Regions from separate parts of the Homo sapiens genome. Here all the other regions are linked to region 2. Evidence: fine-mapped expression QTL. A gene starts in region 2. Each other region holds a variant in brackets. All regions are shown on one strand. Distances are between the middles of the regions.

Region 1 (2,688 bases), 160 kb after region 2:
GACTTCTAGCAATGTAGACCCTACAAACTGCTCCAGTGACACACAAGTGAAAGGAATCTGTACCCTGTTTCAAACATGCCAAAAGTCCCAGCCCTAAAGCTGTGCAGAAACTTGAACTCTCCCTGGAACATTTTGCCCCCGTATCATCAAGGCCCTAACAAACCTGCTTTCTGGTTTCTTCACCCACTGTGGATTAATAGCCGAAAAACAAAAGGAAAGGTGAGGAGGAAATGTTACAGGGGGGTCTGTATTGGCAAGCATGGTTACTATCCATAAAAAATCACATTGGACTTCAAAGATGGTAAATCTAAAATGCAACTTGAATTGTGCTATGTAGTCCAAACCAGTTACAGTAATGGATAGTCATAGCGGCCTTCAGCCTTCAAGAAAACATGTATAATATCCTCTGTCCTAAGACAGCAGGTAATTAGTTAACATAAGGCCTTAAAGATGTAAGTAAATTTCTGTTGTCTGGATACTTGATAAAGAATAACTTATCTTGGGTTGTTGTGGTGGCTCACGCTTGTAATCCCAATATTTTGGGAGGCCAAGGTGGGCAGATCGCCTGAGCCCAGGAGTTGGAGGCTACCCTGGGCAACAATGGCGAGACCCCATCTCTACAAAAACCACAAAAGTTAGCCTGGTATGGTGGCCTGGGCCTGTAGTCCCAGCTACCTGGGGGGCTGAGGTGGGAGGAGCACTTGAGCCCAGGAGGTCAAGGCTGCAGTGAGCTATAATTGCACCACCGCATTCCAGCCTGGGTAAGAGAATGAGACCCTTTCTCAAAAAAATAAAAAAAGAATATCTTATTCTGATACAATAATGGTAATTAAATGAAGCCCCCATAGTACTGTCACATGGACGTGGATCTGACACCCTAGCCAACTGACTTTGTGGAATTCTCTAATATTATGTATGGCTTTCCGAATTGAAGCATGTTGTGTTACTAGTTGTTGTTTTTGTATTCATTTACATATTTATTCATTCAGTAATTGGGGTGTGTACATGGTACCAGGTAATACTTTAAAAATCCCTCTGCATCTGTAGTTTTGGCAATAAACGTAATCAAAAGCAACAAAATAAAAATATTAGCCCTTAAAACTAGTTTATTCTTGGATCCCAGATATAGATTATCTGAATTTTATTGCATGTATTCACAGGCAAAAAGCTGTCAGATCTGGAAAGAGTTACCTCCCTGAAAGTATATAATTGGTTTGCTAACAGAAGGAAGGAGATCAAGAGGAGAGCCAATATTGGTAATGTATCAGTGAGGCTGCTTTTCTCTTGTGCAGCAGTTGTGAACGTCATGTTTATATTAAGATTAACTTCAGTTTAGAAACTGCAAGTCTAAAGGATCCTAACTTCT[CT/C]TTTTTTTTTTTTTTTTTTTGAGACGGAGTTTCACTCTTGTTGCCCAGGCTGGAGTGCAGTGGCGCGATGTTGGCTGACTGCAACCTCTGCCTCCTGGGTTCAAGTGGTTCTCCTGCCTCAGCCTCCCGAGTAGCTGGGATTATAGGCATGTGCCACCACACCTGGCTAATTTTGTATTTTTAGTAGAGATGGGGTGTCTCTATGTTGGTCAGGCTGGTCTCGAACTCCCGACCTCAGGTGATCCGTCCGCCTCGGCCTCCCAAAATGCTGGGATTACAGGTGTGAGCCACCGTGCCGGATCCTAACTTCTAAGCCTAACAAAAGTTGCCCTAATGTCTTTCATTGTGTTTTTAATAAACCACAGTTAGTATTATTTACACTATTTGTAGTGTAATGGTAATGACATTATTATTTATAAAACTCATTCTTCTTAAAGTTCTAGAATATAGAATTAGACATGGCCCCTGAGCAATTGATTACTCCTGTGGTACATTTGAAAGATACTTGTAAGATCTTGAGAAAGGGAATGTAATACCCAGAATTTCTTCATTATTACTGGACTATGACTTAAATATTAGGAAACAATTGATTAATGGTTTGGAATGAAAGAGACTTAATAGACAAGGAACGCAGCAAAAGGCAGAGATAAAGAGCATTTAAGAAATATGGATTCTTGATGTAATCATTTATGTATATATACACATATCAAAACATCACCTTGTACACCATAAATATATACAATTTTTATTAATTATATTTCAATAAAGCTGAACAGAGAAAACAAAAATGCCAAAAGTGCCCTAGAGGGAACTACGAATACAACTGAAAAAGGAAGAAATAAAGGATTTGTTCCCATTCAAAACTGTAACAGTAATAAATAAGAATAAGAAATTTAAGTTGGTGAGTCAGGTGGGATGTTGGTTTTTAGCTTCTAAAATTGCATTTCATTTCTTCCATCCAAGTACTAACCAGGCCTGACCCTGCTTAGCTTCCAAGATCAGACGAGATCGGGCGCATTGAGCGTGGTATGGGCATAGAATGCATTTCATTTCCTTCCTTTGTAAATACACTTTTTATTCATCAGTACAGTTCTCATATGCTCTATAGAACCCCAAGATAGGAAGACTGTTTAGTTAGTTAGCAAGTATTTATGAAGCACCTAACATGCACAGCAGCAGAGACCCCAGAATGGCAAATGTGTGCCTCCCCTGACCTACATGCAGTTGAATTTCATCCATCTTACAGTCTAAAAGAAACAAATGTAGAGAAATACAGGTTCTTGTTTAATTACATTCTAATTAATTTCCTTAGCACAAAAAT
Region 2 (2,688 bases):
CTGGAGTGCAGTGGCGCGATCTTGGCTTACTGCAACCTCTGCCTCCCGGGTTCAAGCGATTCTCCTGCCTCAAGTAAAGCTTGACAATAACTTGGCTGCACAAATATGGGTTTTAAAAGGTTGAGAAACAGTGTTTCACACCTGCCTTTCTACACTATGTTATTAACTAATTGAATCGAGTTGGAATAAACTAGTTAGACTTGTGTGCACAATGAGTCAAATGGCTCAAATCAAAGGTCTGAGGAGCCTCCATGAACCAGGTGCTTGAGCTGTGTGATGTTAAGACTTCAGGTATACCGAGCACGCTTCATTCAGCCTTGGCTCATGAAGTCCCTACAGTCTTAGAATGGAATACCATATAACACTTCTCTGCCCATCTAAATCCCATGCAGGGTTTAAGACTCAACTTCTCCACACTCTGACCTCGTCCTGAATTCCAAGGGCAGTGAGGAGTCTATATAACAGGATATTTAATAAGTGATTACGTTCTGCTGGATGTTTTTTACTGTCTGCTTAAATCTAGCCAGTCTCAACAACAGTAGGGAGACAGGATACTCAAGCGCCAATCGAATGGAAACGGATTGTTAACAGCCTATTATAACCCTCACGTGGGAACCAGGACGTCCAAACCTGGTTAACAGAGCCCACAGAGTTCATGGGCGAAGGACTGTGACAGTCAACCTCTTGTCTGAACAAAAAGACCCACTAACGAGTGAAAAAAGACCTCCTGGGAGGGATGGGGTGGGGGAGAGGGAATTCAAACCTTCTCAACAACAAAAAGCAGCTTTCCTTAGCCCACTCCACTTTCCAGCTCAATAATTGCTACCCCTCCCGTGCGACGATTCCCTGCCCAACGTAGGAAAAAAAGAGGTCCAAAAGGTTATAGCATCACCTTTGCCCTCTGACCTAGGAGCGAAGACTCACCAGTTTCATAATGGACTTTTGGTGGTTCAATAGCAGTCACTGAACTCCTCAAACCCAGGAAGCGTCTTCCGGTGCAATCTCCGCCACCTGCCAGCCGAGAGCATCGCGGGACTTGCAGTCTTTCATCCTCACGTCCCTTCCAGGGGAATAATGGGAAATGTAGTCTCCCCTCCAGGCATCATGGGAACTGTGGTCGCCTTTCCTTTTCCTCCCTTTCCTCTCCGAACGCCTCCTTCCGTCAGCTCAAATTCATCCCAGCCGCCAATGCATCCTCCCTCTCCACCCCAGCATGATATCATGTCTTCCTTACGGGCCTGGGGCCCATGGTGTTCTGGGATGTGTAGTCCCGACGGCTCCGACTCCCCTTTCCCTCCTCCCAAAGGGAAGGCGGATGGGCACGGGGCTTGCCGGAAGTTGTAGTTCCCTTGGCCCTCTAGGCGCCGGGCTCCGCAATTTTTCTCAGGGGAGGCAGGAACTACAACTCCCAGGGACGCCCGGCGGCAGCAGGTGGGAGAGGGGCTGTTGATATCAATATGGCGGTTGTCAGCCAGACAAAGACAGTCAGTCTGATGTGATTGAGACAAGGGAGGTTTTTCAGGGGGAGACTGGGAGATAGGGGCCTCCCCTCCCCCTTCTCCTCTTCCTGCGCCGGCCTCAACCCCTCCCCAGTCCCCTCCCGACGGGCGCCCCACGCGGAAGACACCCCTCCCCCTCCCGCCTTCCCTCCTCCCTATCTCAGCCCTTCGTACTGGGACGTTGGGGAGGGGGCTGTGCCGGGCGGAGAGAACTCAGCGAGGATTCTGAGGTGAGTCGAGCGGTTTTGAAGCCGGACTACCTCAAGTCTCTTTCCTCACTTCTTTCTCTTCACTTAAAACAATTTTTTTGGAGGGGTTTTGGGGAGGAAGTGAGCGGACGCTGGGGATGGGTCTCGTAAGCGGCCGGATTGAGAGGAGGGAGGAAGCAGGGGGCTTCCGAGTGGGTGACCCAGACGCGGGCTGTGGGGTGGGGCAGTTCGTGGGGTCCGGTCCTGGAAAGGCGTCGACTGCCCCCCAACTCTTCTGGTTTCCTCTACGATGAGCGGAAGGTTTGAATCCTGGAGGTGGGGTCTCCGGTGTGGAGTTCTGGAAACTGTGAGGTGATTTGCAGGTGTGTTGGTTTGTTTGGGGTGTGTAAGTGTGTTTAAACTGTGTGACGTGTACTTGTGTGCTCTGCTCGTCTTGGAGCGGTGTCTGTAGATGGGAAGTTAGACAGCGCGAGTCCTCGCTCGCTCTGGGCCTGGGCTGAGGGGCGGGCGTGAGGTCCTGGTGCTGGGCGTTTGGGCTGGCGACGTGGTGCGAGGCGGCCGGGCTCAACAACTCGCTTGTGTCCCGTCGCCCGCTCACACTCTGCCACTCGCCTCCGCCCCCTCCCCTGGACGAATCTCCACCCCAAACTCCAGCCACGAGAACTGTAGAGATGGTGTGATGTGGAGATGGATTTTTTGCATCCTCAAGTCGGTAGATAGGTGGGAAAGGAAAAGTGTTTCTTAATATTTTATTCCGGAACCGTGTTTTGGTTACACTATTGGGGCTACTTTGAAAGGCGTCCTCCACCCACCTTCACCCCGAAACAGTAGGTAGAGGTATCTTGTCTTCGTGTGAATTAGATGAATAATTGCTGAAGATTCGGGGGGCCTGGGGTGGGGGTCGGGAGTGCTGGATTGTGTACGCGTCTGTGTGTGTCTACTAAGGAGACGGAATGTCTGTTATGTATCTGGAGATAGGG
Region 3 (2,688 bases), 160 kb after region 2:
CCTGCAATGCCAGCTTCCTTCACAGCTTTATTGTTTAACACATTGAGCTGCGCGGGGAGGACAGCTTCACACTAGTTCTAGGTAAGACGCCTGCCGCTCCCCTTGCACAGCTGCCTGCAGCAGGAGAGCTCGACACCTTCCTCCCCTTTCTCCCGTAGCCGTTTCTGGCAGTGACATGTGTCCTGTTGTAATGGAGAATTCTTTTTTTCTTTTTTTACAAAAATGCATTTTTTATCTGTAAGATGTAATTGTAAGTTCTGTCTAGTTTTCTCAGTTCAGAGAGGGACCATGAATTCTAATAATCTATTTGTAAGAGCAGCAATCTGGAATTTAATAGCTCACTAGTATGGCCTTCAGTGATTAGTGCTATATTTGTTACAAACAGAAAGATCCAAATTGTTGGTTTTATATCAATCACTGCAGGTTTGATCATCATCACCAGCAATCTTATTAATAGAATGAATAGAATTCTCAGTGATGAAAAACATTTTTTGTGCTTTTTACTTGTTGAATCATAAGATTATCAACTGAAAATCTTTGGACCTATATCCATTCAGTGTCTACTTAAATACAATTTACCTCTATTTTATCATGAGCCCCTCCCCCAGTTTCCTCCCACGAATGTTCTGCCTCCCCTTGCCCCAGCATGTCTCTCTGTGACTAAAGAATTCTTCCAATCCACTAATAACATTTCTTATTTCTGCACATCTAGGATGACAGTACGAGCCATAGTGACCACCAAGACCCCATCTCATTAGCTGTGGAAATGGCAGCAGTCAACCACACTATCTTGGCATTGGCCCGACAAGGAGCCAACGAAATCAAGACAGAGGCCCTGGATGATGACTGATCAGGGAGGTTAAACATGACAAGTTAACTTAGTTTAGACGTAGCACCTTAGCAGACTTTCCTCGGTCCTTAACATGTGTTCTTACAGTATAACTTGCAGTTTCTTGTATGTCAGGTAGCTGTTAGGGTCTTGTTCTGTGAAGATGGCATGGTGCCCTCAGCCTTTGCATATACTCTCTCAGTATTAACTCCCAGTAAATAATAACCAACCAACCAACCAAACTTCCCTCTCCCAGCCCCCGAGGCTAGAAAATCTTGCTGCTCCGTCTTAGCATTCCAAGAAAGTGCTTCCAGGTATTTAGATAGCCCTCAGTTCTCAAATATTAGACTACGTGTAAAATCTTGGGTACCTTTAGATTCTTGTAACACTAGTCTGTACTCCCTTTTCCTTCCCCAAGACTGATAGGATGCAAGCTGAGGTCGTGGCACAGGAATGACAGACACCATTTGGGGAGTATCCACAGAGTCAAAGGAACACTAGAATCCCCACCTCAGCGTGAGGATAATTGATTTCCAGCTGCAATAAGCCGTGCCTCATTATAGCCACACTGTGGCTAGATTATACTTCTTTGGGTGCTGTGCTAAGAATGTCAATGGAAAAAGCCGATCTCAGATTTTGTTTGAAGTTAACATGCCTGACACAGACATCCTTTCCTCTCACAAGCTGTGTGACTTAGTAGATAAAATACTGCCTTCTGCCTTTGGGACCATGATTAAAAACAAAGACAAAAACCAAAAGTCAT[TAAAAAAAA/T]AAAAAAAAAAAACCCAGCTTGAGAGCATTGGAAAAAAAAAATATGAGCTGAATGTCTAATGGATGCTAAGTCCAGTTTTCAGAACCACTGTACATTCCACGGCACAGTTAGCAGTGCCTGCCTGGAAAAGTTTTGGAGGTCATCGTGGAAGTTGCTTTGCCTCCTGTCAGTGTCCCCTTTCCCTGCTACCAAAAAAGTCTTTCAAGGATGGAGCTAAGGTCAAAAATGAGTGAAAAAACTTGCAGTGTTTGTATCCATTAAACGGAAGCCCCCTCACTCTGAGAGGTCACTAGAGGACTTCATAGTGGGGTTGTGCTGCTTATCACAGATGCAGACACTTGCCCAGATAGGAGCAGAGAAAAGCAGGGGACGTTTCCTACTCACATTGTGGCTGTATGAGAACACGATGGGACTGCTTTGCTGTTCTCTTTACTCTGTCCTTGGAGAGGTGTGAAAAGCTGTATTGCTACAGGCAATTTATTTAATAATTGGAAGCCATATTGATAATGGATGTGGTAATATTTGTAAAGTTTAATCTACTTTAAGCGGCAGTAACTAATGGAATTTTTTTCCTTGATCACATATGTAGCACTTTTGTTACTTTTTAAAGATATTTATATTTGATAAATCTTTTTTTCATTTTGAGAACTCAAAATACCAAACAGTGAACTTGCATTCTAAAGTCACCCTGTGATCACCTTGTCATCTAGTAGCAAAATGATGAACTATTCATGCATCAAAGAAAATTACATCTGCTGGCCTTGTATGAAAATGATCTCTTGGCATCCCGATTAAATGACACACTGTCACTGTGGGTAAGAGGAAAGAGCCTTCAATGTAGCAGCACAGGGTGCGCCTGAAAGAGGCACAACTGCTGTGGATTTTCTGCCTCGCTCCATCTCTCCTATGTATAATGAAGCCTTGTTTAAAGGGGCATGTGGGGCTGGATGTTAAGCACGGCTTCTTTTTGTCCGTTACCTGAAAACAATTTCTAAGATAAAAGGAAGGTGCCATTTCCTTACCTCTTCACCCATCCTCCTCCACCAAATGTATTCAACTTAAAACTGTGAGAGAGAGAGACTGAATG
Region 4 (2,688 bases), 280 kb after region 2:
GGAAAACGACAGACTTTTCAAAGGTCACAGAGCTGATTCAGAACAGAGCTGAAATTACTCATTCACTCGACTCTTCCTGGAGTTCACCACTAGGGAGGATGCTGGTAAGTAATACTATATAACAAGGACTAAGATGATAGAGATAAATACAATATGGTCTAAAACAAACAGCAGAGAGCCAAATCTTGAAAGGTTAAGGAAGACTCTCACAGAAAGTGACACTTGAGACCCAAAGATAGAGAAGCATCACCCAGGTAAAGGGAGAGGGGAGAGGAGGGAGGAGAGACTGAAGAGATGGGAGGGGAAAGCATGTTCCAAGTGGAACAAGAGTAAAGTCCTAGAGGCAAGACAACACTCATCACTTAGCTGGAATTTGTAACACCAAGAAGCACAAGATGAACAATAAAAAAAGTAAAAGGGGTCAGCTCATAAAGGACCTTGTAAGTCACACGCCATTAAAGAATTTGGACTCTGTGGCTGGGCGCAGCGGCTCACGCCTGTAATCCCAACACTTTGGGAGGCCAAGGCAGGAGGATCACTTGAGTCCAGAAGTTCAACACCAGCCTGGCCAACATAGTGAGACCCTGTTTATACAAAAAAGAAAAAAAAGGAACTTGGACTTTATCCTAAGGGCCTATAGACAGTTACTGAAAAGACTGAAGGTTAAAAGTATTAATGTAGAAAGATGTTGCAACCTAACCATGGAGAAAGGACTGGACTAAGAAAGCTCGAGGGAAACGACTGTCATCCAGGCGACAGATGAAAAGTGGCCTTCATTAGGGAGGTGGCAGTAGGAACGAAAAGAGGGAGATGAATTAGAAAGATACTCATTATCTGAGCACTCACTACCAGAAGTTACTTCACGTTAAGAGGCCCACATTTAGATGGTTATTCAGAGGACCAAAAATCATCTTAATATGAAATAGTTCTCCAGTGATGACTCAGCGAATGCGTAACCCTCATTTAATGGTTGTTCCATCCTCCCTGGGAGAAGAGCACTCACATCTATTCTGGACCAAATCACCAAGAAAAGCCACAGCTTCTCTCATTCTCAGATGTTACACACATTAAGAGCACAACACAATTACAACGCAAATATGAGGCAGAAAAAAAAAGACGCTGTGAAACTGAAAATGTTATAGAAGATGGGCAATTGTACAAGTTCAATGGAAATTATGTTGAAGAATACTGGAAGTATGCCCATGTCAAACTAGGATCTGGGTGAGTCAGACTAAGAATTTAAGAAGGAAAAAGCAACAGGGACCTAAAACCCACTTTAAAGGAAAAGGATCTCCATTTCAACCAATTTGGAGAGAGCTCTGGGAAAACTGCTTAAGCTCTGGAACATGTTTTGCGAAAAAAAAAAAAAATGCCCCTATTTACGATCTTCTGTGAAGTCCAAATGACG[T/C]TAAAAAAAATCATATAATTTTTTTTTCTTCTTTTTTTTTTTTTTTTGAGATGGAGTCTCACTCTGTCGCCCAGGCTGGAGTGCAGTGGCATGGTCTTGGCTCACTGCAACCTCTACCTCCTGGGTACAATCGATTCTCCTGCCTCAGCCTCCCAGGTAACTGGGATTACAGGTGCACACCACTACTCCCAGCTCATTTCTGTATTTTTAGTAGAGATGGGGTTTCACCATGTTGGCCAGGCTGGTCTCAAACTCCTGGCCTCAGGTGATCTGTCCACCTCGGCCCCCCAAAGTGCTAGGATTACAGGCCTCAGTGAGCCCCATGCCCAGCCAGATCACATATATTTTCTTTTCTTTTTTTTTTTTTTTTGAGATGGAGTCTCACTCCGTCGCCCAGGCTGGAGTGCAGTGGCGTGATCTCGGCTCACTGCAAGCTCCTCCTCCCAGGTTCACACCATTCTCCTGCCTCAGCCTCCCGAGTAGCTGGAACTACAGGCGCCCGCCACCACGCCTGGCTAATTTTTTTGTATTTTTTAGTAGAGACAAGGTTTCACCATGTTAGCCAGGATGGTCTCGATCTCCTGACCTGGCGATCCGCCTGCCTCGGCCTCCCAGAGTGCAGGGATTACAGGTGTGAGCCACCATGCCCAGCCAATCACATACATTTTTAAGGAAAAAGATAATGACAAATATTCAGCAAACACATGAGTTATTTTTAATACATGAAAGTTGCAATGATAACCTAAATTAACTAAACAGCAGATTAAGTGACCTTTTAAAAAATGTTATGGTTTCATTCTTCAAGTTCAAGTACTATGAACAGTTTTTTTCATTATTTTCTATCAAGGACTGGTAATATGAAGTGAGTATCCTTCTAATGAAAATTAACCTTTGATAAGAAGAGCACAGCCTTGGCAAAAACAGCTGCACAGTCAAGTCAGCGATGATTCCAATCCCGATCCTGCCATTCATTAGTTCTGCACCCTCTGTGTCATCTGACCACTGGGAACACCACCCTTTCCCTTCTGAGAAGGAAAGGAGACGATACCCATGAAGCCCTTGGCATGGCACCAGATACTCCTGCAACAGGTGCTCCTGGCCTCCAGGCCAATGAAGCCACTCAGTGATTACCCGTGCCATTTTCACTATGTCGATTAAGTTAACAAAAGATATTTCTTGTTTTTTGGTGCTTTTTTTTTTTTTTGAGAGGGTTGTCTTACTCTGTCACCAGGCTGGAATGCAATGGCATGATATCAGCTCACTGCAACCTCCGACTCCCA

Which allele goes with the higher level. Positions count from the first base shown, and alleles are read on the strand shown. Sizes are in standard deviations (SD) of each study's normalised expression. Not every link is listed here.
As copies of C replace CT in region 1, the expression in monocytes after LPS of the gene that starts at base 1,446 in region 2 goes down (large effect, 1.2 SD a copy in Fairfax 2014).
As copies of T replace TAAAAAAAA in region 3, the expression in monocytes of the gene that starts at base 1,446 in region 2 goes down (large effect, 1.1 SD a copy in CEDAR).

The links. PIP is the estimated chance that this variant, and not a neighbour inherited with it, causes the effect.
Region 1: its variant is the best candidate, but not a certain one, in a credible set for the expression of HMBOX1 in monocytes after LPS (Fairfax 2014, PIP 0.59).
Region 3: its variant is the best candidate, but not a certain one, in a credible set for the expression of HMBOX1 in monocytes (CEDAR, PIP 0.60).
Region 4: its variant is the best candidate, but not a certain one, in a credible set for the expression of HMBOX1 in lung (TOPMed, PIP 0.83).

The regions. Positions count from the first base shown.
Region 1 is chr8:29,046,198-29,048,885 of GRCh38, forward strand. HMBOX1 (homeobox containing 1) reads left to right here. Exons shown (of 10, transcript NM_001135726.3): 8 at 1,161-1,256. It also overlaps the pseudogene RNA5SP260. Among named protein-coding and RNA genes, the nearest start is that of HMBOX1, 160 kb to the left of the region's middle. The variant CT/C (reference allele first, on the strand shown) is at 1,367.
Region 2 is chr8:28,888,950-28,891,637 of GRCh38, forward strand. HMBOX1 (homeobox containing 1) reads left to right here and starts at 1,446. Exons shown (of 10, transcript NM_001135726.3): 1 at 1,446-1,729. INTS9 (integrator complex subunit 9) reads right to left here and starts at 1,020. Exons shown (of 17, transcript NM_018250.4): 1 at 925-1,020. The coding sequence starts at 933. RefSeq lists enhancers at 803-1,359, 999-1,198, 1,360-1,916 and a silencer at 1,569-1,688.
Region 3 is chr8:29,050,306-29,052,993 of GRCh38, forward strand. It overlaps HMBOX1 (homeobox containing 1), which reads left to right. Exons shown (of 10, transcript NM_001135726.3): 10 at 713-2,688. The coding sequence ends at 850. Among named protein-coding and RNA genes, the nearest start is that of HMBOX1, 160 kb to the left of the region's middle. The variant TAAAAAAAA/T (reference allele first, on the strand shown) is at 1,593.
Region 4 is chr8:29,170,321-29,173,008 of GRCh38, forward strand. All of the region lies in intron 10 of KIF13B (kinesin family member 13B), which reads right to left. Among named protein-coding and RNA genes, the nearest start is that of KIF13B, 91 kb to the right of the region's middle. The variant T/C (reference allele first, on the strand shown) is at 1,409.